Regions from separate parts of the Homo sapiens genome. Here regions 1, 3 and 4 are each linked to region 2. The links come from fine-mapping of genetic effects on gene expression. A gene starts in region 2. Each other region holds a variant in brackets. All regions are shown on one strand. Distances are between the middles of the regions.

The links. PIP is the estimated chance that this variant, and not a neighbour inherited with it, causes the effect. A credible set is the group of variants that fine-mapping cannot tell apart.
Region 1: its variant is the best candidate, but not a certain one, in a credible set for the expression of ADAMTS7 in lymphoblastoid cells (GEUVADIS, PIP 0.88).
Region 3: its variant is the best candidate, but not a certain one, in a credible set for the expression of ADAMTS7 in monocytes after Pam3CSK4 (Quach 2016, PIP 0.77).
Region 4: its variant is the best candidate, but not a certain one, in a credible set for the expression of ADAMTS7 in lung (TOPMed, PIP 0.82).

The regions. Positions count from the first base shown.
Region 1 is chr15:78,760,117-78,765,255 of GRCh38, reverse strand. It overlaps ADAMTS7 (ADAM metallopeptidase with thrombospondin type 1 motif 7), which reads left to right. Exons shown (of 24, transcript NM_014272.5): 20 at 549-701; 21 at 1,157-1,330; 22 at 1,411-1,557; 23 at 2,691-2,853. Among named protein-coding and RNA genes, the nearest start is that of ADAMTS7, 49 kb to the left of the region's middle. The variant G/C (reference allele first, on the strand shown) is at 2,698.
Region 2 is chr15:78,809,240-78,814,378 of GRCh38, reverse strand. It overlaps ADAMTS7 (ADAM metallopeptidase with thrombospondin type 1 motif 7), which reads left to right and starts at 2,915. Exons shown (of 24, transcript NM_014272.5): 1 at 2,915-3,258. The coding sequence starts at 3,159. RefSeq lists a silencer at 2,468-2,887.
Region 3 is chr15:78,754,089-78,759,227 of GRCh38, reverse strand. It overlaps LOC112268143 (a long non-coding RNA gene), which reads left to right and starts at 1,483. Exons shown (of 2, transcript XR_002957697.1): 1 at 1,483-1,580; 2 at 2,746-3,264. It overlaps ADAMTS7 (ADAM metallopeptidase with thrombospondin type 1 motif 7), which reads left to right. Exons shown (of 24, transcript NM_014272.5): 24 at 1-22. RefSeq lists enhancers at 1,297-2,101, 2,217-2,426, 2,102-2,906. The variant G/A (reference allele first, on the strand shown) is at 2,157.
Region 4 is chr15:78,775,762-78,780,900 of GRCh38, reverse strand. ADAMTS7 (ADAM metallopeptidase with thrombospondin type 1 motif 7) reads left to right here. Exons shown (of 24, transcript NM_014272.5): 9 at 3,313-3,457; 10 at 4,060-4,152; 11 at 4,568-4,713. Among named protein-coding and RNA genes, the nearest start is that of ADAMTS7, 33 kb to the left of the region's middle. The variant G/A (reference allele first, on the strand shown) is at 2,895.

The DNA of each region.
Region 1 (5,139 bases), 49 kb after region 2:
TCCTTTGGCAGTGACCTGCAGGGGTCTGAGCTGCCAGAAAGAAGCTGGCTAGTGCCCCTCCCTGGGTCCCCAGATGGTCACTGCAGGAGAAGGAAGCTTCTGTTCAGATCCCTAATTTTGGGGCGGGAAGGGGCAGGCTGAGGCCCACAGGGCTTGTTTTGCGCAGGGATACCCAGCGATTTGGCTGCTGGTACCAGGACCCAGCCTTCCTTCCCTGGTGCCTCTGGGAAGCGACGAGGCTGGTCAAGATAGCTGGTCGGGGTGCCCACAGGGTCCCCTCCCCCCACCTCTGCACCAATGACACTGGAACACAGGCCCTTTGTCCCATGTGAGCAGGGACGGCTGGTTGCTGAGGGGATTTGACTTTTCATTCTCACGGTCTTCCTGGGAGGTGGGTGAAGGAGCCTATTTTGCAAATAAGGAAACTGAGGCCCAGAAGAGGGCCCCTGTCTTGCTGAGGTCTCGCTAGCCTAGGTGGGTAGTTTCCTGGCTGTGGAGGCCTGGCGGGGATGGGATCTGCCTGGCTTTCACGGGTCTCTGCCCCGCAGTGCTCTACCACCTGTGGCCTGGGTGCGGTCTGGAGGCCGGTGCGCTGTAGCTCCGGCCGGGATGAGGACTGCGCCCCCGCTGGCCGGCCCCAGCCTGCCCGCCGCTGCCACCTGCGGCCCTGTGCCACCTGGCACTCAGGCAACTGGAGTAAGGTGCGTGAGGATGGAGCCAGGACAGGCATTCCCAGGGCATGGGGTGGAGCCCTGGTTCCCCACGGCCTGTGTTCTGAGAGCGGCAGGGAAGGGGAGGGCCCCAGGCTGCACATCTGTGTGCCCGATCACACCGGATTCTGAATCTCTTGGGAGTCTTCTCATCTTTGTCTGGCTTGGCCTGTCTCCTTTCCTCTGTATCTTTGACCCCATCTGGACTTGTCTTTCACCAGCTTGCCTTTGTTCCTCCCTTTCTCTGTCTGTCCCAGCCCGTGGCAGCCCCTGGCCATGCCACCTTTTGCCTGGGGCCTGCCAGCCTTGGCCTCTCGCTGGGGTTCTTCAGCTATTCCCCCGGGCTGGGGCGTGGGCCTGGATGCCTTTCCCGCCACACACCTCACGGGGTCACGCCTGTGGGCCTGCACATGGGGATGTGTCCATACACGTCTCTCGGTCCCCAGTGCTCCCGCAGCTGCGGCGGAGGTTCCTCAGTGCGGGACGTGCAGTGTGTGGACACACGGGACCTCCGGCCACTGCGGCCCTTCCATTGTCAGCCCGGGCCTGCCAAGCCGCCTGCGCACCGGCCCTGCGGGGCCCAGCCCTGCCTCAGCTGGTACACATCTTCCTGGAGGGAGGTGAGGCCTGGCCGTTGAGTTGGGGGGAGGGGACGCCCTCAGACCCTGGCTGTGCCCTGACTCCTTCCCTGCCCACCCAGTGCTCCGAGGCCTGTGGCGGTGGTGAGCAGCAGCGTCTAGTGACCTGCCCGGAGCCAGGCCTCTGCGAGGAGGCGCTGAGACCCAACACCACCCGGCCCTGCAACACCCACCCCTGCACGCAGTGGGTGGTGGGGCCCTGGGGCCAGGTGAGCCGGGCTGCGGGGAGGAGCAGGGAGCAAGTGCTTGGTGGCGCCTGGTCAGTCTTGGGTTGGGTGAAGGAGCTGTGGAGTGTGTGCTGTGAGCCAGGCTCTTTGTGGCCCTGTCACTGGACGAGGCCCCGCCCGGCTGGTGCTCACACCTGCCAGGGAGAAACAGACAAGGAAAGGGCGCGTGTGCTGTGGTGTCAGGGAAGGCCTTCCAAGGAGGGGTCTGGGGTTGAGACCCGAGGGAGGAGTCAGTGATGCCAAGGACAGGGATCGAAGGGACATCAGGTGTGAAGTCTGAGGCAGGAATGACGAGCTTGAGGGGGCCGGGGAGCCCGGCAAAGGCCAGCGGCAGAAGGGGGCGTAAGAGGGGCCTCAGATGGGCAGGACACCTTCTGCTGGGCCTGTTTGGAACTGAGGGGTTCAGAAATCTCAGATTTGGGCCCTGAGCTGGGTCCTGGAGTCAGCTGGGCCAGCGTTTGCGTCTTTGTCCGACTGGCTGCTGAGTGACTCTGGGCAGGTTGCTTTGCGTTGCTGGGTCACTGTTTTCTCATCTGTAAAACTGGAACAGCTTAGGAGAGGAGGGTCAGGAGGATTAAATGAAGGAACGCAACGAAGCACAGGGCCGGGCACAGCATGACACTGGCACAGACTCAGTGCATGTTTAGGGCTGATAACAACGAAGCCTGGCGGGCTGGGCCCCGGCTGTGAAACTGTCTCCTGCCCTCCTGCCCATGGGCTGCGGCAGGTCCTCTGCCCTGTCCCTCGGGCACAGCGGTGTCTCGCCCACATCTCTGCCCACTGCTGCATCAGGGCTCCATCCCGGCGCCCCTGCCCAGGCTTCTCAGGCATGTCCTGTGTGAGGGGCTCACTGCCCTGCCGCCCCGAGGGCTGTCCCACGGTTCTCACGCCCCTTCCCTCTGCAGGAGCCGATCCCACAAGTGAGAGTGGGGTTCCAGCACCAAGTGGGCTCTAGGAATGGGACCAGGTGCTCCAGGAGGCACTGAGGGGGCGGCTGGGAGCAAGGCCAGGCCAGTCAGGCACAGGGCGCAGGGACGGCTTCCCAGAGGAGGTGTCCCTGCCCCCACTGCTAGGGCTGGCCCTGGAGACACTCATTCCTCCCCCGCTCCCCTCAGTGCTCAG[G/C]CCCCTGTGGTGGTGGTGTCCAGCGGCGCCTGGTCAAGTGTGTCAACACCCAGACAGGGCTGCCCGAGGAAGACAGTGACCAGTGTGGCCACGAGGCCTGGCCTGAGAGCTCCCGGCCGTGTGGCACCGAGGATTGTGAGCCCGTCGAGCCTCCCCGTGAGTCCCCTGACCCCAGGCTCCCTGCTGAAGTGAGGTGGGGTGGGGAGGGTGATGGGGAAATGGGGTCGTCAAACCATTGTGCCCACGGCACTGGCTGGTTCCATCTGTAGTCTGGGCTCAGGAGCCACATGGCCACTGAAAATCCTGATGCCACAGGATGCCATGCTGGAGGCTGGGCTGTGCTGGGAGTCAGTCAAGGGGAGTCCCGGCCACACAACATCCCATAGGCAGCTGTCTGACCTTGGGGGAGTAGAGGGAGTGGCCCTGGCCCCTGATTTGCTGTGTGAACCTGGGTAAGCTCTTTCTCCTCTAGGTCTCAGTCTTCCCACAGTGAGACCAGGGATGTCCCTGAGGCTGTGTGAAAACTGGGCCTGGGTGAGTCCCTGTCCCCAGCCCTGGCCTGTCCATTCCCTGGCTAGAGGACTGCCTAGAGTGAGCAATGGAACCACAGGAAGGGCCTCCTTTCCAGGGTCCTGCTAATGAGGTAATGGGGTTTGAGGCAGGAAGGGCCTCCCTTCCAGGGTCCTGTTAATCCCAGTGGTGGGGGGTTTCCTGGCCAGCTGGGTCCTGGTGGAAGGGCCTGAGGTAGAGGTGGTTCTGGACACCCCTGCCGCCGCCTCCAGCATGTGTGCGTGCGCGCACACACACACACACGCCAACACACACACACACAGTCATACACTTCCTTCCTGCAGCCCCAGCTGCTCCCGGAAGTGCTGAGGGCAGGAAATGGGGTGGCCCTGGAGTGTCACCTAGGCTCCCCTCACCAGCTGTGTGGCCTTGGGCTCCATTTCCCTCTCAGGGCCTTCATGTGCTGAATAAAGGGGCTGCCAAGCCCCATCCTTGCATAAATGAGGTCTGGGCATGAAGCACGCAGCACTGCGTGGGGATCCAGGTGGTGCTCAGGGAAGGTGGCTTTTTCCCCTCCCCCACAGCCACTGTCATCCCCAATTGCAAGGTCAGGGAGAGGGCCTGGGGCTGACCCTGCCAGTCTAAGGAATCCAGAAGCCGTGGCGTGAAGAGCTGTGTCCCCTGTGCTATTGGCTGTCTGCTCCCTGCCCCTAGGACAGAGTCCTCAGCCAGGGCCCTCAAGCTGGCATTCAGGGCCCCCTGCAATCTCCCCGGTCTGCCTTCTCCCCTTGTCCAACGCTGCCTTCTCTACCTGTGCCAGCTCCTGGGCAGCCCTCATTCAGGCTCAGAGTGGCCCCTGCCATGCCTCGCTGCCCTGCCTCTGGCATGGGTGGTCTTCCTGCCTCAAACCTCAAGGCCCAGTGGCAGCGCCCCCACCCTGTCCTGCCTGCCCTCAGCACGCACCCAGCCAGCATCTCAGAGCACTCCTATGTGCTACCTGAGCTGGGTGCTGGCACCACGTCTCTCACCTTTATGGCTAGGGCTGGCCACAGGGAGCGGGGTGGTTATGATCCCAGTGGGGGAGGACCAGATGGGGCAGAGAACAGAAACTGAGGCCCCTGGGGGCCTAGAACCAAGGACGGATGGCCCAGGAGGCTCTGGGCTTGCAAGGTCTCCCAGGGGCGGGTGTGAGTGGGCTGCAGGGAGTGGGCTATGGGGGCTGGTTAGGTGGCTGAACTAGAAGCTGTCCTAAGTGAGGAGTTTTCTGCCATCAGTGAACAGTGGAGGGGGGCTGGGAAGGTGTCTTGGACTTGGAGACCTGGAATTCCCAGATGTTCTGCTGGTCTGTGGGACAGTTGGCGGGACATGTGGAAAGCTGGGAAACTCGTGTGTGTGTGCTCACTGCAGTGACACAGCATGGCCACATCCATTTGCTGTGGAGGTGGGGTTGACAGAGGAGGGAACCGAGGCCCAAGAGGTGAAGCAGCTTGTCTGAGGTCACCCCGGGCGACCAGGATGCAGGCCTGCAGATGTGCACTTTGGAGCTCTGCCTGGAGCTGGGGTGGAGGAGCCTGCCTGCTGCCTCGTGCCCTCTGCCGGGCCTGGGGGATGTCCCAGGCCCAGGGCTGGCTGCTGCCTTCCTGCTCCTCCTCCCCAGGGAGGTCTGCTGGAGTAAGCAGGGCCCGGGTGGCAGCTGGGGGCTGTCAGCAGTGGCAGTGGCATCAGGAGCAAGGCCAGGAGGCTGGAAACAAGCCACTTCCCAAAATAGCTCTGATAACCACGGGGCAGGAGGGCCCAGCCAAGCCTCAGCCCTGACAAGCACAGCCTGCAGCTGGCCTCCCTCCCCAGCAGGCTGGGCTCAGTCTCTGGTTTCCGCTGACGGCCTGTAAGGCCCACTCACTCTAGGCTTCGTGGCCCACCTGAGAAGTGGGA
Region 2 (5,139 bases):
TCGGCCTCCCAAAGTGCTGGGATTACAGGTGTGAGCCACTGCGCCTGACCAGTGTCCAGCTTTTTAAGATTTATTTTTATTTCTAGAGACAGGGTCTCTCATTCTCTCGCCTAGGCTGGAGTGCAGTGGTGCAATCAGAGCTCACTGCAGCCTCGATCTCCTGGGTTCAAAGGATCCTCCCTCCACATTCTCCTGAGCAGGTAGGACAACAGGCATGCATCCCATGCCTGGCTCACATCTTCTCCCTTTCACCTTCACATGACTGGCTCCTTTTTGTCATTCTGGTATCACAGCTTAAATGTCACCTTTTTAGGAAGGCCTTCCCTGACCACCCCATGGAAAGTAGACTCTAGTCACTTCCGGTTTTATTTTCTTCAAAGCACCTCTCTGTAGCTGGTCTTGTTTATATGGTGGTCTGAATTGTTTATCCATCTGTCTATTTGCTTGCTGTCCATGGCCTCCTCCAGAGTGGGAGCTCCAGGGAACAGAGACCTTATCCACCTGTTCACAGCTGTGTCCCCAGTGCCCTGGGTCTGCAGTGCATACTTGATCTTATGGAGTGAAGAAGAGATGTGCCAGGTGATGAGGGCAGAGTGGAGGTATGTGAACAGGGAGGGTATCTCTAGAATGCACTGTGCAGGTCAAGGTGGAGAAGGAATTTGGCTTTGACACCAAGATGGGGGGACAAGAGGCTTAGCCTGAGGTACAAATGGGAAAAGGGGGAATCTAGACAACCTTGAGGGAGAAGTTTGACTAAGACAGGGAGCAGATATGTGGGGTGGGAATTAGAGGGGACACCCAGTCCATGGAGGGGTATTATCAGTACTTTTTTTGTTTTTTTTGAGACAGGGCCTCACTTTGTTGCACAGGCCGGAATGCAGTGGCGTGATCTTGGCTACTGCTCATTGGTGGGGCCAGGCCTGGCCCAGCCTCAATCTCCTGGACTCAAGTGATCCTCCCACCTCAGCCCCCCAAATAGCTGGGATCACAGGCATATGCCACCATGCTGGGCTAATTTTTAATTTTTTTGTAGAGACGGTGTTTCACTATGTTGCCCAGGCTGGTCCCAAACTCGGGGCTCAAGTGACCCTCCCACCTCAGCCTCCCAAAGTGTTGAGATTATAGGTGTGAGGCACCTTGCCTGCTTTTTGTTTGTTTGTTTGTTTTTCCCTAGAGACAGTGTCTCAGTATGTCTCCCAGACTGGCCTGGAACTTCTGGGTTCAAGTAATCCTCCCTCCTCAGCCTCCTGAGTATCACTGGGACTACAGGCCTGTGCCACTATACCCAGCTATTATCAGTATCTTTAATAGGAGGAAGACAAGAATGTTTTTAGACTGACGGTCACCAACCCAAGGAGACCAAGGAAAGCGGGGGACACCTGGAGCAGGACCTTTGAGGAGACAGGAGGGGAGGGAGCCACAGAGCCCTGGTGGAAGCATTGTCTCTGACTGCTGGAGGGCACCTGTTTCACTGTGTCCAGATGGAGGGAGAAGTGAGTGGGTGCCAGCTACAAAGGCTCATTGTATGCAGTGTGCATGGTAGGATGTGGTGGTCTGAATTGTCCATGTCACTGAGCAGCAAGACCAGCTGGTGTAAGCAGTGGGGAAGAAATGCAAGGTGGTTGGGTAGGGGCCAGGAGTCAAGCAGTAGATGTAGCTGGGAGGGAAGTAGGTGAAGCCAGGAGGGGCTGGTAGGTTGGGCGAAGAGGAAGGTATCAAGGGACTGGAGGAAGAGCAATACATAGTGGGACTGTGAAGGTGGAAAGGACTGCAGAGTCGGGTCTGACAGGGGGGCACCTGAGCTTCGGATTTCCAAGATGGAGCAGTTCTGAGGGATGACACAGCCCAGGCTTTGGCCCTGAGACCTGATGGCTGAGGTGGAGTGGAAGGTCACTGGAGATGAGATGGAGGAAGTAGGTGACCCTGTACTACACAAATTCCCTAGAGGACAGACAGGTTGAGGGTGGAGAGGAAGCCAGAAGTGAGCTTCCAGGAATTGAATGAAAGGGCCCAGGAGATTGGACAATGAGGAGGTGTGCGGGCCTCAGAGGGCAGGGGGCACACAAAGACTAACCAAGGGGAGGAAGCTGACCGCAACCGCCCCGAGGACAAGACGGGCGTCCTCGGTACAGGGCCATGTTTAGTGACGGCAGAAGGGAGAAAGGAAGCTCCTGGGAGCACAGGGGGAAGGGGAGCCGGAAGCCAGAGCCAGGGCTGGGGCCACGAAGGACAGACGGCCGGTGTTGGAGGCGGAGGCTGGCCTGGGATGTGAGGCTGGGGTTGGCCGGCCTCCAGGCTCCCCGGGAGCCCCTGCTGAAAGTCTGTGGGCGCTGGCCTGGGCGAAGCCGCGGTCCCCCGCCTGTGGGCTCAACTCTGCGCTCTGCTTCAAGCAAACGCACTAGGAGAGGAGTCAGGAGACGAGGAACTGCGGGGCCCCACCTCGCGCGGGCAACCGCTGTCTGTCCAGGGAGGGCCCAGGCCTGTCTCCGCAGATAGCTTTGAAGCAGGGCCCCCGGTGTGGCCCTCTGGAGGCCTCCCGCGTCCCCTTTTGAGGGGCTGCCCTGCTTGGCCTGGGGAACACAGCGAAGGGCACCTCGTGGAGCCCAATTTAGGGACAACACATTAATTCTGGAAATTCCAGATTCTTTCCGGGGGTCCTCAACCGGCCGGGGTCGGAAAGGCCTGGCAGGGCTCCGCCGGCAGGGGGCGCTCGGGACAGGGGGGCGAGGGGGGCGGACATCCGTTGCGGGGCGCTGCCTGCGCCGGGCCGGCCAGCCCTTGAGGCGAGCACGGCCTGCGGGGCCGATGAGGCCGGGGCCGGCCGGGGCGGGGCGGGGCCAGGGGCGGGGGAAGGAGTCCGAGGGGCGGGGCGGGGGCCGGCAGCCGCCCTCCCTCACTCTCCCTCCCTTTCTTTCTTTCTTTCTTTCTCTCCTTCTAGCTCTCTTGTCTTTTCTTTGCCTCTGCAGCGGCCAAGGGGGCGGGCCCTGCAGCCTTTGTTGCCCGCGGACCGAGCGCAGCCGAACGGAGTCGGGGCCGGGTCGCCGGGAGCTGCACGCCGGCCGGGCATGTCCTGAGCCGGACCTGGGACCAGGCAGCGACCGGACGGGACGGACGAGAGCGTGCGCGCGGGGTCACCCGGCGGCCGCCCGGTTCCTGCCATGCCCGGCGGCCCCAGTCCCCGCAGCCCCGCGCCTTTGCTGCGCCCCCTCCTCCTGCTCCTCTGCGCTCTGGCTCCCGGCGCCCCCGGACCCGCACCAGGTGGGTGTCCGCCCCTCCCCGGCCAGCCGGGCCTGCCACCCCTTCCCGCTCCCCCAGTCTCGGTTTTGTCCCTCCTCACCTTTGTGGACCCCGCGCCGGCTCCGCTGTGCCTGGAGTTGGTCGCGTCTTCCGCTCCCTGGGTATTAGGGGACAGTAGTCGGGGTCGGGCCGGGCCGGGAGCGAAGCCGCGCTTCTGGGGAAACTTCCTCGGCCCCTGATTCAGTTACTGACACTGCCTGTCGCCTGGAATAAGCCCCTTCCGCTCTTCGGGCTCCGGTTTCCCCACCTCGGGTGCAGCAACGCGCCTGGCTCCCGGGAGAGCTCTCGTCCGAGTGGGCTGGACGGAGCGCGGTTTACCCACTGAGGATTTGGTTTCTCACACTCCTTAGCGAGGCTCGCCTGGAAAGCGGGCTGGCCGGGACACAGCCGGCGAGGGCGCCAGGTCGCAGGTCTTCGCGGGACCCCGCCGCCCCCCCAGCTCCCGCCCACCGCATCTGGGCTGCTGGCGCGGCCCCTGGCGGCTCGGGGGGCCGGGTCTTGCGCGGTCCTTGCACTTCCTGCCTCTCCCTTCCCCAAGTGTGAAGACGCCGGGAGTGGAGCGGGGAGCAGGAGCTTCTTTTCCCGGCCATGGGTTAACTCTCCCCGCCCCGCCGGGCCGGCCTCCGACGAGCCTCTGGCCTGCGTCCAGACTCTTGTTTGGCGGCGACCTGCCGGGCGGCCGCGCTGCTGGCGCGTCCGACGCAGCCGGCCTGGGAATTCAGTAACCGAGGATGTAGGAGACCCCAGGCCCGGTGCTCAGGGAGCTCCCAGTCAGGGGAGCCGGTGGATAGTGGGGAGAGTCCTGCAATAGAGCCGACCGGCAGGCTTTGTAGGAGAGGAGGGGCATGAGGTTGGAGAGACTGGAAGGATGGATGGATTCTGGATGAGCTAGAAGGGCGTGGAGGGAGTGGGGCCCTCCCCTGGGGAGCATCAGTCGGGGGACTGGATTAGGGTTGCTTGCTGGGATGGGGTCGACCTGCCTCCCCACTGGAGGGATTGTGACGAGAAAGTAGTCTGGGCGGGAAGGATGGGGACATTGACTCTTGATCTTAGAGGTTTGGGAAGCCGTTGAGGGGAGCAGCTGATGAAAGCAGTGTTTTGGAAAGATTTGGTCTAGCAGCCATGCGCAGAGCGCAGAGGGAGCGAACATTTAATGAGCACCTACTGTGTGCCAGCCTCACGGGTTCTTATTTCTCATCATCTCCACAACAACCGTGCAAAGCAAGTGATGGAAAGTCCTTTTATGGACCAGCAAACAGGCTCAGAGTAGAGCGACCTGTGGGGTTGGACTCCTGAGCTTCCTGAATGAGGCTTGTGTTTTCCACTGTCCAGAGCTGGGGGCTGAGGAGGATGAACCGGGCGATGGGAATGGGAGAGCAGGAAAATGCTTCCCTCAGGACTTGGGTCCTGGCCCCCTGGCAGCTGTGGGAAGAGTTGGGTGCGGTCAACCTCGTGGGATTCTTATGAGGATTAAATGAGATATTGAATATGTCAGTTGCTCAGGCAGGACACAGTGACTACAATGTAGTGGTCATTATTTTTATTAATCTGCCAGGCCGACCCAGGACTCCCCAGATGACCTGGACCTGCTGTTTGAGGGTGGAGGCAGGCCAGGCACTCTCTCCAACCTAATCTGGGCACAAACACTCCAAGGGTGAAGTCTGTCTCTAGTGTTCCCATAGATATAGAGCATGGGGTCCTTCCTGTTCTGCACTCCCTCAGGATTGGTGACTCTGAGGCTGCTGGCCTGTTTGTCATTTTCTTTGAAGCCCAGGACCTAAGCCTGGGGCTCCTCCTACCACTGAATGTTACCTTCTTTAAGACCAAAGGGCTCATCCTGGG
Region 3 (5,139 bases), 55 kb after region 2:
AATGAGCATCTACCATTCCAAAGCACAGCGTGACTTCGTCTTGGATTTGGAGAATCTTAAAAGTGAGAAACTCTTCCCCCCACCCCTCTGCCCAAAACTCCACCGCCACAGCACCTCGGCAGGCGTGGCTTTTCACCTGCTCCTCTGGGACAGATCTGCAGGGGGCAGCGTAGAAAATGAGTCCCTGAGAGCATGGCATCTGGTGAGGCACGGAAGGCCTCAGAAGCTGGGGGGCTGCTCCCCAGGGAGGGCTGTCTGCAGAGGGTGGGGTTCTGGGGGCAGGAAGGTCTTCCGGGCAGGGGCACGGCTTGGCCCTTACTTGCTGCCTGCCTTCAGCTCAGGCTCCCAGCCTTCCCTGGGGCCCCACTCTGTGGTCCTCAGAGACCTGTTCCACAGGGATTGAGCCCACCATGTCACTTGCAGGGACTGCCCCCTGGAGTGGTGGGGACTGGGGCCCCCATGGGGACCTCCCTGGCCCTGTCTGTTCTATCTGTTGACTCTTCTGCAAAAAGCAGGCAGAGAGGGGAAGAGCAGGCTGGCCAGCTGTGCCCTACTGTGTCCCCACGTGTCCCTTCATCTCTGTGCCCAGAGATAGGGCTGGGCTAATTGTCACTGCCTCAGGTTGGCCCCTTTCCCACCACCAGCCCCAGCTACAGGTTCCTACCACGCTGATCTATGGTCCAGCACCTGGCACCTGCCTACCCACAGCCCCTTCCCCTCCCATAAAATCTAGTCCCATGGAGCCAGACAGTAGTGCCCACAGCAGGGAACAGATGGGCATGAAGGTGCTTTGAAGAGGGTCCTGGCCTGACCAGGGGCGGGAGGCTGGGGAAGGGGCGGACACTGTCCCCCCAGGCCCAGGCCCAGCCCTGGATCCAACCCTGGCCTCTGGCTGTGAGCCTTAGACTCAGCCGTTGACAATTTCTTCCTCAGCCCTCCCCCTGGAAGGTGTTACGCCCCTTCTCCAGGTGGGGGACACTAAGGTTCAGAGAGCTCGCCCTGCAGCCTACAGGGGTCACCTCTCACATTCTACTCTCCAGCGTATGACAACCCTGGACGAAAGGTGAATGTAGCCCTGGAGCCTGCATGTGGCAGCCGCAGCCACTCAGGGCTGGGTATATGCTGGGGATGGAGGGGACACCACTGAAAATCACTCCTGGCTGGGCGCGGTGGCTCACACCTGTAATCCCAGCACTTTGGGAGGCTGAGGCGGGCGGATCACCTGAGGTCAGGAGTTTGAAACCAGCCTGGCCAATGTGGCAAAACCCCATTTCTGCTAAAAATACAAAAATTAGCCAGGTGCGGTGATGGGGACCTGTAATCCCAGCTACTTGGGAGGCTGAGGAAGGAGAATCGCTTGAACCTGGGAGGCGGAGGTTGCAGTGAACTGAGTTCGCACCTTTACACACCAGCCTGGGCGACAGAGCGAGACTCCATCTCACACAAAAAAAATAAAATAAAATTACTCCTTAGGGGCTGAGACCAAGAAACAGTATCAGAGGCTGAACCCCTCGGCGATGAGCGTCTGTCCCAGGACTTGGAAGGGAGGGAGGGAGCATGGCCACGGCAGCTGCCTGCAGGTGCGTGTCCTGCTGCTCCCCAATTCAACATGCTCACCTCATTTCACACCAACAAGCCCGATCCTCAGAGGAGGAACTCAAGGCTCTGAGAGGAAGTACCTGGCCCAAGGGCACATGCCCTGGTGACACAGGCCCATCCTAGGCTCCGACTGCCCACCTCCAAGCTCCAGGCTACCCTGAGCAGGTGGAAGAGGGAGAGGGCCCCAAGCAGGTCCCAGTGGTGGCTTTGCACAGAGAGGGCAGCCTGCCAGAGTTCACGCAGGAAAGCAAGTTGCTGGGCAAGCTAGCGTGAGTCCCAGCCCCGCTGTGCTGCCCGAGGGTGGAGGAGCGTCAGGCGTGCTTCCTGTCTGTCTGCAGCAGCCCGGCTGGCCCAAAGAGACCCTGGGGACCCACGCTCTGAGTCACGGCTTCCCAGGCCTTAGTCAGAACGGCCCCTGGTGGCACTCCCTTCCAAGGGGTGGGGAGCAGGGCCTGTCGACTTGCTCCTGACCCACACACCGAACCAGTCCCTGTCCCAGCTCTGCCGCCGCCGCTCTGCTGCGTGACTCCAGGAACCCCCAGCCTCGCTGAATCCAC[G/A]TCCCCAGAAGAGAAAAGCCTGCCAGGCCTTGGCCTGCCCTGTCTGGGAATCCTTGATGGAGCCACCCCGAAACACCCCTATGGGAACCCCTTTGGTCTTCATCATTCTTGGGTGTTTTCCACTGATGACTGGGGGTGTCCCCAGTGGCAGCTGGGCCTGAGCTGTCAGCCAAGACGGGAGACAAACAAGCCTGTGACTCAGGCAGGGCATGGCACAGCTGGCGGAAGGAGGCATGCCTGTTCTTTGTGGCTGGGCGGGGGGTTATCCGGACACAGGGAGTCTCCAGCTTCCGGCTTTCCCACCTCGGTGCCCCCAGCCCACACCTGCAGCTTGGCCATGGTTCTTGGGGCCTCCCAAGGCTGCCCCTGCTGGCAAAGGCATCCTGATGCACCCGCCCCAGGGTGAGCCAAGGGCAGAGACACCCAGAAACGCCAGGCTGGAAGGTTGGAGAGCCCCTCCTCGCCCCCCGCAACACCAATAAGCCCTGCCCCACCCTCCAAGCCCTTGGGGTGAGCCCCATCACTAGTGACTATAACTGAATTTCAATGCAGAATATTATACAAATTAGTAGTTTATTTCTTCCTTTAGTATTACAGTTCCAAAACATAACTTGAAGGTCAGCACAGGAGCTGCTGTGATATAAAAGGAGAGAGTCACCTGGCGCCCCCTGCAGTCCTCCAGTTGCCCAGCAGCGGTGGGACGCTCAGTGGCACACACTGGGTCTCTGTATGGCCTCCCACCTGCAAGGACTTCCCCGGGCAGGCCCAGCTGCCCAGAAGCCCCGGAACACACAGGAAGACAACACTATAGGATGGCAGGTGGGGATCTGTGCAATACAAACATGTAGCTAGAAAACCCAACTGAGGATCTGTCTAGAATACTTCCGATATCAATATACCGTAGTTGTTGAAACCAGAACCGTCTCCAGCCGTCAGCAGTCTTGGCGGCTACTGTACAGCTGTCAGCATGACTACAGGCAGCACCCGAGGCTATCTGGGGTAAGAAGTGGGCCTGCACATCACATCGGTGAGTCAGTGAGAGTCAGGGCCAGAGGGAAAAGCAACTCGGAGGCTGAGGCTGGCACAGATACACACAAGGGAGTCACACACATAACATAAGAACTTGTTATATAAAATAGATATGTGGAATCTAGAAACACCTTGAGAAAATAGCCTATAAAAATATAAACTGTAGTGAGAGTGTACAAAAGTATTAACAGAGGTTCAACCCATAAAAAACCCCATCCATTTAAAAGCTGGCAATTCGCAGCAGATGTGGGGAGGGAGCTCCCCTCGGTCCTGGTGCGCGCATTTGGACAGGCCTTTGGGTTTCCCAGCTGGCAGGGTCCCCCTTGCAGGGGCCACGGGCTGGGTGTTGGGGTGAAGGTTCAGAGGAGGAACAGCAGCTTGGGGCAGCCCCTGTCAGAAGGGCCCCCTGCCATGGCAGCCAGTGGAGGCCAGGGACCTTCAGGGCACTGGAGGGGACAGAGCAGCTCTTTCCTCAGTGACCCGAGGGAGGGGAAGTGTTAGCGCAAAAGAGTGGGGCCCACAGTCCTGGAAGGAGGAGTTGGCTCCGTCCCGTTCCCAAACTTTAACCAGGCGGAGCCGCCCTCTCTTGCCTTCTGGACACGCATCACTTGATTCCAGGCAGGAGAACCTCTGAGAAAGTGTCCCCAGTCCCTTTCCTCCAGGAACTCTCCTGCTGTCGCACACACACACTACCCGGCAGCTGCTGACAACTGCCTGGAAACACTAACATACCACCGTGGGTTGCAGCCACGACGGGCCCCTGGTCAGGTGCATCTCTCAGGGCAAACTGGACAACACGAGCCTGTCCCTAAAGGCAGCTCTTAGCCCCAGGACATGGCAGTGTGTGCTGGCATGTTCCAGGGGCCATTGGCTTGGAAAGTAAAACCTAAGGGCAGCTGGTGCTGGCCCACGGGCCCAGCCCCATTCCTGCTGCACCTCCTCAGCAGCCACCCCCCAGGCTGACAGCTGTCGTTTCACGATGGGCTGAGGGGTGGGGTGGGGGGTTTCCAACACTTGATTCGAGCGGACTGCAACGCCCAGCTCACAGGACAACTGAAGGAGTCAGACCTCAAATTGCTGTTCTCAAAGACAATGACAACACCCATTTTTGATGCCTGAAAAGAGGCAAAGGCTTCTGGCTAAATATAGAGGCCAGCTCCGTCTACCCAGTGAAACATTAACCAACTCCGCTAAAGACACGAAGCCGGAGCTCACTCTAGCATGTGCTGAAACACCAACTTTGCCGTGGCATTGCTAGAAAGTTGACAGCAAAAAATAATAGGAAAAAAGTACTTCTTAAAACTGCATTACTTCAATTCTTAGTCTCAGTGTGTTCGTATCAACAGAGGATGGTTTCCAGTTTTTTTCGGGTAATATGAAACATTCCACTGAGACTGTTTCTCCTGTATTTTCATAACACTGTGCCAGAAAACATCCTCTCACATCTACGCATCAGGGATGGTCTAGAGGGATTAAGCAAAAACAAGCTCCTTGCTCAAAGCCTCTCCCCAGCCTTCAGAAAGGCAGTCCTCTGAGTTCCCAGAAACTGCTGTGTCAGAGGCAACAGTGACCCTGCATCCTGGCAGAGAACAAGGATGCTTCCAGGCAGTGGTGGGGTGGGCACACATCTGGGAGAGCTCGCCCAAGCCTGCCCCAAGCAAAAAAGTTTCCCAGCCCCAGGCACTGGCAGCTGGCCTCCTGCACAACCCAGGCAGGTGGAGGAGACACCAGGAGCACTGGCCATCCCCAAGGAGGCCATGGTTTTCAGCTGTCCAAGACCGTTCACACTGCGGCTGCACCACTGCCCTGCAAAGCACCCCCGAAAACATTCCTCCATCCCCTCAACCAAGGCCAGCCCAGGCGTGGGCCTGCTTTGCAATATGACGGTCCACTGTTTACTTGGAATCCCATCCCATCGTACTTGGTGAATGATTTCCACGAGTCAAGAAGGGCA
Region 4 (5,139 bases), 33 kb after region 2:
CACTGAGGCATGCAGTCCTCGTGGGTCTGTAGGAATGGGGAGAGGGCCACCAAGCCCTCCTGGGGTCAGGAACAGTGACTCGGAGAAGGAGCCTGCCTTCTAAAGGCCAGCTTCCACGCCGAGGAAGAAGGGTGCTGCTGTAAGTGGAGGGCAGGCTGGGCAGAGGCCGGGGCCATGCGAGTATAGGGTGGGGCAGAAGAACCCTCAGGAGGTGGTGGGGGGGCACTGGAGGGTAGCTTCTGGAGCTTGTCCAAGAGGGTTGACCTGAAGAACTCTAAGAACCTTTCCGGACTGACAGGTGCTTTAAGGGACCCTGGGGAGAGGTCACAGCATTTCACCAGTGTCAACTTGGACCTGGGTGGGGAGGAGGGGAGGCCCTGGTCCCTGCTTTCCTCAAAGCCAGCATTTCTACAGGGAGAGAGGCAGGCTGGGTCACATGTGGGGTCCTTCACTTCACCCCGTGGACCCCCCATTCAGTGACTCCATGACCAGATCCCTGGGGTGGCCAGGGGTGGCCAGGGGAGCGGGCCCCCAGGTCTCTCCTGTCAGTGGCAGGCAGCTCTTTGCAGTCTCAAGGTGAGAGTGAGGCTTCTGACTGGAGTCACCTACTGTCTCCTTTGACCTCTTGTGGGACTGCCCAGCCCCGCTATAATTAGCTTAAGGAGGGGCGTGGAGGGGAAGGGCTGACGGGTTTGGGGATCCGGGTGTGTCGGCAGCGCAGAGGACCTGGCAGTGAGCCTGCCAGAGGAAGGAAGGGCTGGCTGCCGGCCGCCTGTGTGATTTTTCCCAAGAAGACACTGCTATTTATACCCCTGTAGCTTGGGATCAGCCTCTTGTAGATGAGGACGTGAAGGCCCAAGGCCACACAGCATCTATAGCCAGGCAAAGAGTAGAACTTGGGTTTCTGACTCCCAAGACAGCACCTCGGCCTGATTCTCACAGTGGATTCTGTGAGGGTCGCCTCATGCTCCCGACTTCTCCCACACACCCAGGGTGGGCTGAGAGGTTGTTGTGGCTTCAGCTGCCCAACAGCAGGCCCGCAGGAGCCACATGTGCAGCGAGTCAGCACTGGGGCAGCCAGGAAGCAGAAGGGCTGGGCTGCAGCCCAGGGACTGTTGGTGCTGGGATGAGGTGCATTGGACCCCTCAGCCCCAGGGTCAGAGGACCCCCTGGCTGGGATGGGTGAGCCCCCAGTCTACCTCCTCGAGCCACAGAATGCTAGCGGGAAGGAGGGAGCCCAGGGCCAGCTGACCCCACCACCCGCCGCTGATACTCTGCCCCGGGTGCAGGCCCAGGGAGGCTCAGGGAGCCCCAAGCCGCAGGAGCACTTGGGACACTCCTTTCTCCCCACCAGGTCTCGCTGCCATGGTTTTGAACTTGTATGTGGGGTGAAGTATTTGAGGCCAGGCTCGCAGTTGAATGGGAGGAGCCCTGCACTGGGGGTAGCCCAGTGAGTAGACACAGCCTGGTGCAGGCAGCCTGGGCCTGGCTCCAGATCCTGGCCATCACATCTCTCTTGTGCGACCCGGGGCCAGTGACCTATGGGCCCTGAGTGCATGAGGGGAGATGATGGTAGAGTCTGCCCAGGATGTTGTGAGGAGCAAATGAGAGGGTATGCCCCCAGCACCCTGGACCAGCCTGGCATGTGATCATCTTGGGCACTAGGACTGCATCCAGCAGCTGCTCATCTGCCAACGCCCATGTTAGAGGATCTGTTTCCAGCCAGCATGGGCAGTCTGAGTGATTCCAGGAGGATTCCAGGGTTCTCAGTAGAAGTCTGGTCACCTTGGCTTTCTTCTCCGCAGCTCTGGGCAGGGCCGGGGGCCTGTCACTGGTCGGGGGATTTAGGAGACCACGCAAACACCCACTCCACTCTGGATCTCCAAGCTGCCAGGCCCCCTCCTCTGAAATCAGGGCTTCGGGAGTCCATGGTCTGATCCACCCTCCCAGCCTCTCTCCACACCTGCCTTCAGTGGTCTTGGCCCTGTTTCCTGACCCTTTCGTGTTCTCCCAGCCTCTCCACATCTCGGAGTGTCTCTTTCTCTCCCTGCTGGACTCCAGGATCTATCACCTTTGCCCTTCTTCCCTGTGCAACCCCCTGCCTGTCCCAATCAGGACTGTATGCTCATCCTGACCCTCTGTCCTGGCGCCACCTGCCCTGAGGCCACCCAGACTGGAGAACTGGAGGGTTTGTGCCTCCCCATCTCCTCTGCCTGGCTAGAGGCCCCAGGTCCCGCGGGTCCTGCCTCCCTCCATTGTTTCTGCCCAAGTCGTGGCTGCCTGGGTCGTCCCCAGCCCTGCAAGTCTGTGTGGCTCAATTCTCCCCAGCCACTGCTGCCCCCAGAAGGCAGCAAACCTTCCTCCAGTTCCTCCAGGACAGCAATGAGCCATGGGCAGGGTGGTCAGCATGCCAGGGCACTCCTGCTGCTAAGCCATAGTGGTGGCCACCTAAGGTCCAGCAGGGGCAGCAGGCTGGTCACTGGTCCCAGAAGCAATAGCATGCCTGAGGGTTGTACAGAGTGAGGCAGGGGCAGAAGCGGGTGCCAGAAGGGACTGGGCCGCCCTCCCCAGGGTCCCTGCTTCCATGCTTCCTGCCTCATGGTGTTGTGTCTGAGCAGCCTTGTCTTCACCACACCACAGCAGCAGGAGTGTGTGGTGGACACAGATGGCGCCTGCTTGTGTCTGCCAGTTTCCCCGCTACCGCTGCCAGGGAATGCCAGCTGGAGGAAGGCAGGAGTAGATAGGGTATGACAGAGGCCGGAGGCCAGCCCTGTCGGGGTGTGGGGGAAACGGGACAGGCATGGTTGCCCTGGGCTCTCTCCCAGGGGAGGGGCTGCTTTCCAGACCTCGCCTTTCCACAGATGACCCAAGGTCTCTGCCTGGGTGGGGCCGTC[G/A]GAGGCTCTGTTGTGTCAACTGTGATGTGATGTTCTCCGGATCCTTGTCGGGCCTGGCTCCAGGGTCTGGGCTCAGACACGGAGGCTGCAGGGTCGGAGAGCAGGGCCACATGACGGCTTGGTGGTCCAGGAGGCCTTCTGAGGGAAGGGCCCTGGCAGCGTGTGCGGAGGCCTGGGATTGGGGTTGGGATTGTTTAGCCAGCTGGAGTGCCCAGGAGGTGAGATGAGAGAGGCCGGGAGGGCCTGTGCTGCTGGCTGCAGGTGGAGGATCGGCTGAGCCGAGCGGGGAGGCTGGAGTTTCCTACAGTTGTAGGGCTCTGTGCCCCCTCCCACCTCTCCTCCTGTCCCGGCCCCACCAAGGCTTCTCCGATGGGTCTCACAGGCTGCGCCCCCCTCCATCCTCCCGTCCCATCTTTAGCCGTGGGTGGGGCCTGTGCCTGGACGACCCTCCTGCCAAGGACATTATCGACTTCCCCTCGGTGCCACCTGGCGTCCTCTATGATGTAAGCCACCAGTGCCGCCTCCAGTACGGGGCCTACTCTGCCTTCTGCGAGGACATGGATGTGAGTGGGGCCGGTGTGGGTGTGGGGGTGTGGGGACCCGGCAGGAGGGCTCAGGGGGCAGCTCTCACCAGCCCGTGGATGCCAGCCTGGGAGCAACCTCTCCTGGCCTGGGCTGCGCCCCTGAGTGACACTGTGAGACGTCAAGTGGCCTGTGGGAGAGGCCAGGGATGGGCGGCCACAGACCCAGCTCTGAATTCTGGGTCAACCATGGACCAACTGTGACCCTTCGGACAAGTCCCTTCGCCTCTCTGGAGCTGGCTTATAAGAGGGAAAAGGAACCCCTGTGGAGAGGGTCTGTTTATCCTGGCGAAGATCGCCTGAAGTGATCTTCTAACAGGAGTGTTTCCAGAGGAGGGGCTGGGCCGGGAGAGGTGTGGACAGCTGGGGACCGCTCTGAGCAGCGCAGCCCCGGGCGCCCCACACCACCACATGGTCCGGGGAGGAAGGTGGGAGCAGGCACACAAGAAGGAACCTCTGGGGGTCTGTGGGCCCCTGCCATGTGGAGGGGTGCCCAGGGGACCCTTGGGGACAGGGAGGGGGGCAGGGTGGGTGGCGGCACTGGGGAGGGTGTGAGGGTATGGCCCATGCCCTCCTCCTCGCAGAATGTCTGCCACACACTCTGGTGCTCTGTGGGGACCACCTGTCACTCCAAGCTGGATGCAGCTGTGGACGGCACCCGGTGTGGGGAGAATAAGGTAGGGGATGTCCCCAGTCCCGGCAGTGGGTGTGTGAGAGGCCAGACTTCCTGCTGTGACCAGGCCCTGGGGTCAGCCCCGGCTCACAGTCTTGCTTGTGCTCCTAGCAGAGCCCCACGCTCTCTGCAGCCCAAGCCCCCATCTGCAAAGTGGAGGCATTGGGGCCAGGGCTTGATTCCATGATTCCCCAGGGTGTCTTCAGCTGAGTCAGCATGTGGGCTGTTTTACTCCCCGCTCAGCTCCTCCATGTGGCCTGGGTCACAGATGATTGTGATGATTGTGAGGGTGCCTCTCTCACCTTCCATCCTTCCCCTCTGTGCCTTTCGCAGCCTTCCCACCCACCTTGTTCTCACTAGGGTGAGGATGACTGATAGACTTGGGGGTGGGGTGGCTCTACCTCCGTCTGTCTCAGTAGTGGTGTCTCAGTGGGGAGTGCGTACCCGTGGGCTTCCGGCCCGAGGCCGTGGATGGTGGCTGGTCTGGCTGGAGCGCCTGGTCCATCTGCTCACGGAGCTGTGGCATGGGCGTACAGAGCGCCGAGCGGCAGTGCACGCAGCCTACGTGAGTGTGGGGCCCAGGGTGCCCTTGGGCAGTGGGACAGAGGGACCCAAACAGTCAGCCGATTGCAGGAGCTTGGCTCTGTCCCAGCCCCTGGCTCTTAGAAGTGTCCTGATAATGGTCAGTCCGAGTGTCCAGGCCACCTTAAGTCACTTTCAAGGAGTGTTCTGGGGGCTGACAGGGTCCCCACTTCTGACCCCTTTCCAGAGAGGGGGACACTGAGGCCCAGAGACTAGAGAGACTCATCAGAGGCCACATGGCAAAGCAGCTGCTGGCTGGAAGGAGGCAGGAGAGGGCAGTGGGGAAGAGCATGGGCCCTGGACCTTAGATGGCTCAGGGTTCGAATCTCCTCTTCACCCCTTCTCTGGGCCTCCATTTCCCCATCTGTATAATAGCAGTGCCCATCCAGTAAAGTTGTAGTCAGGGGCA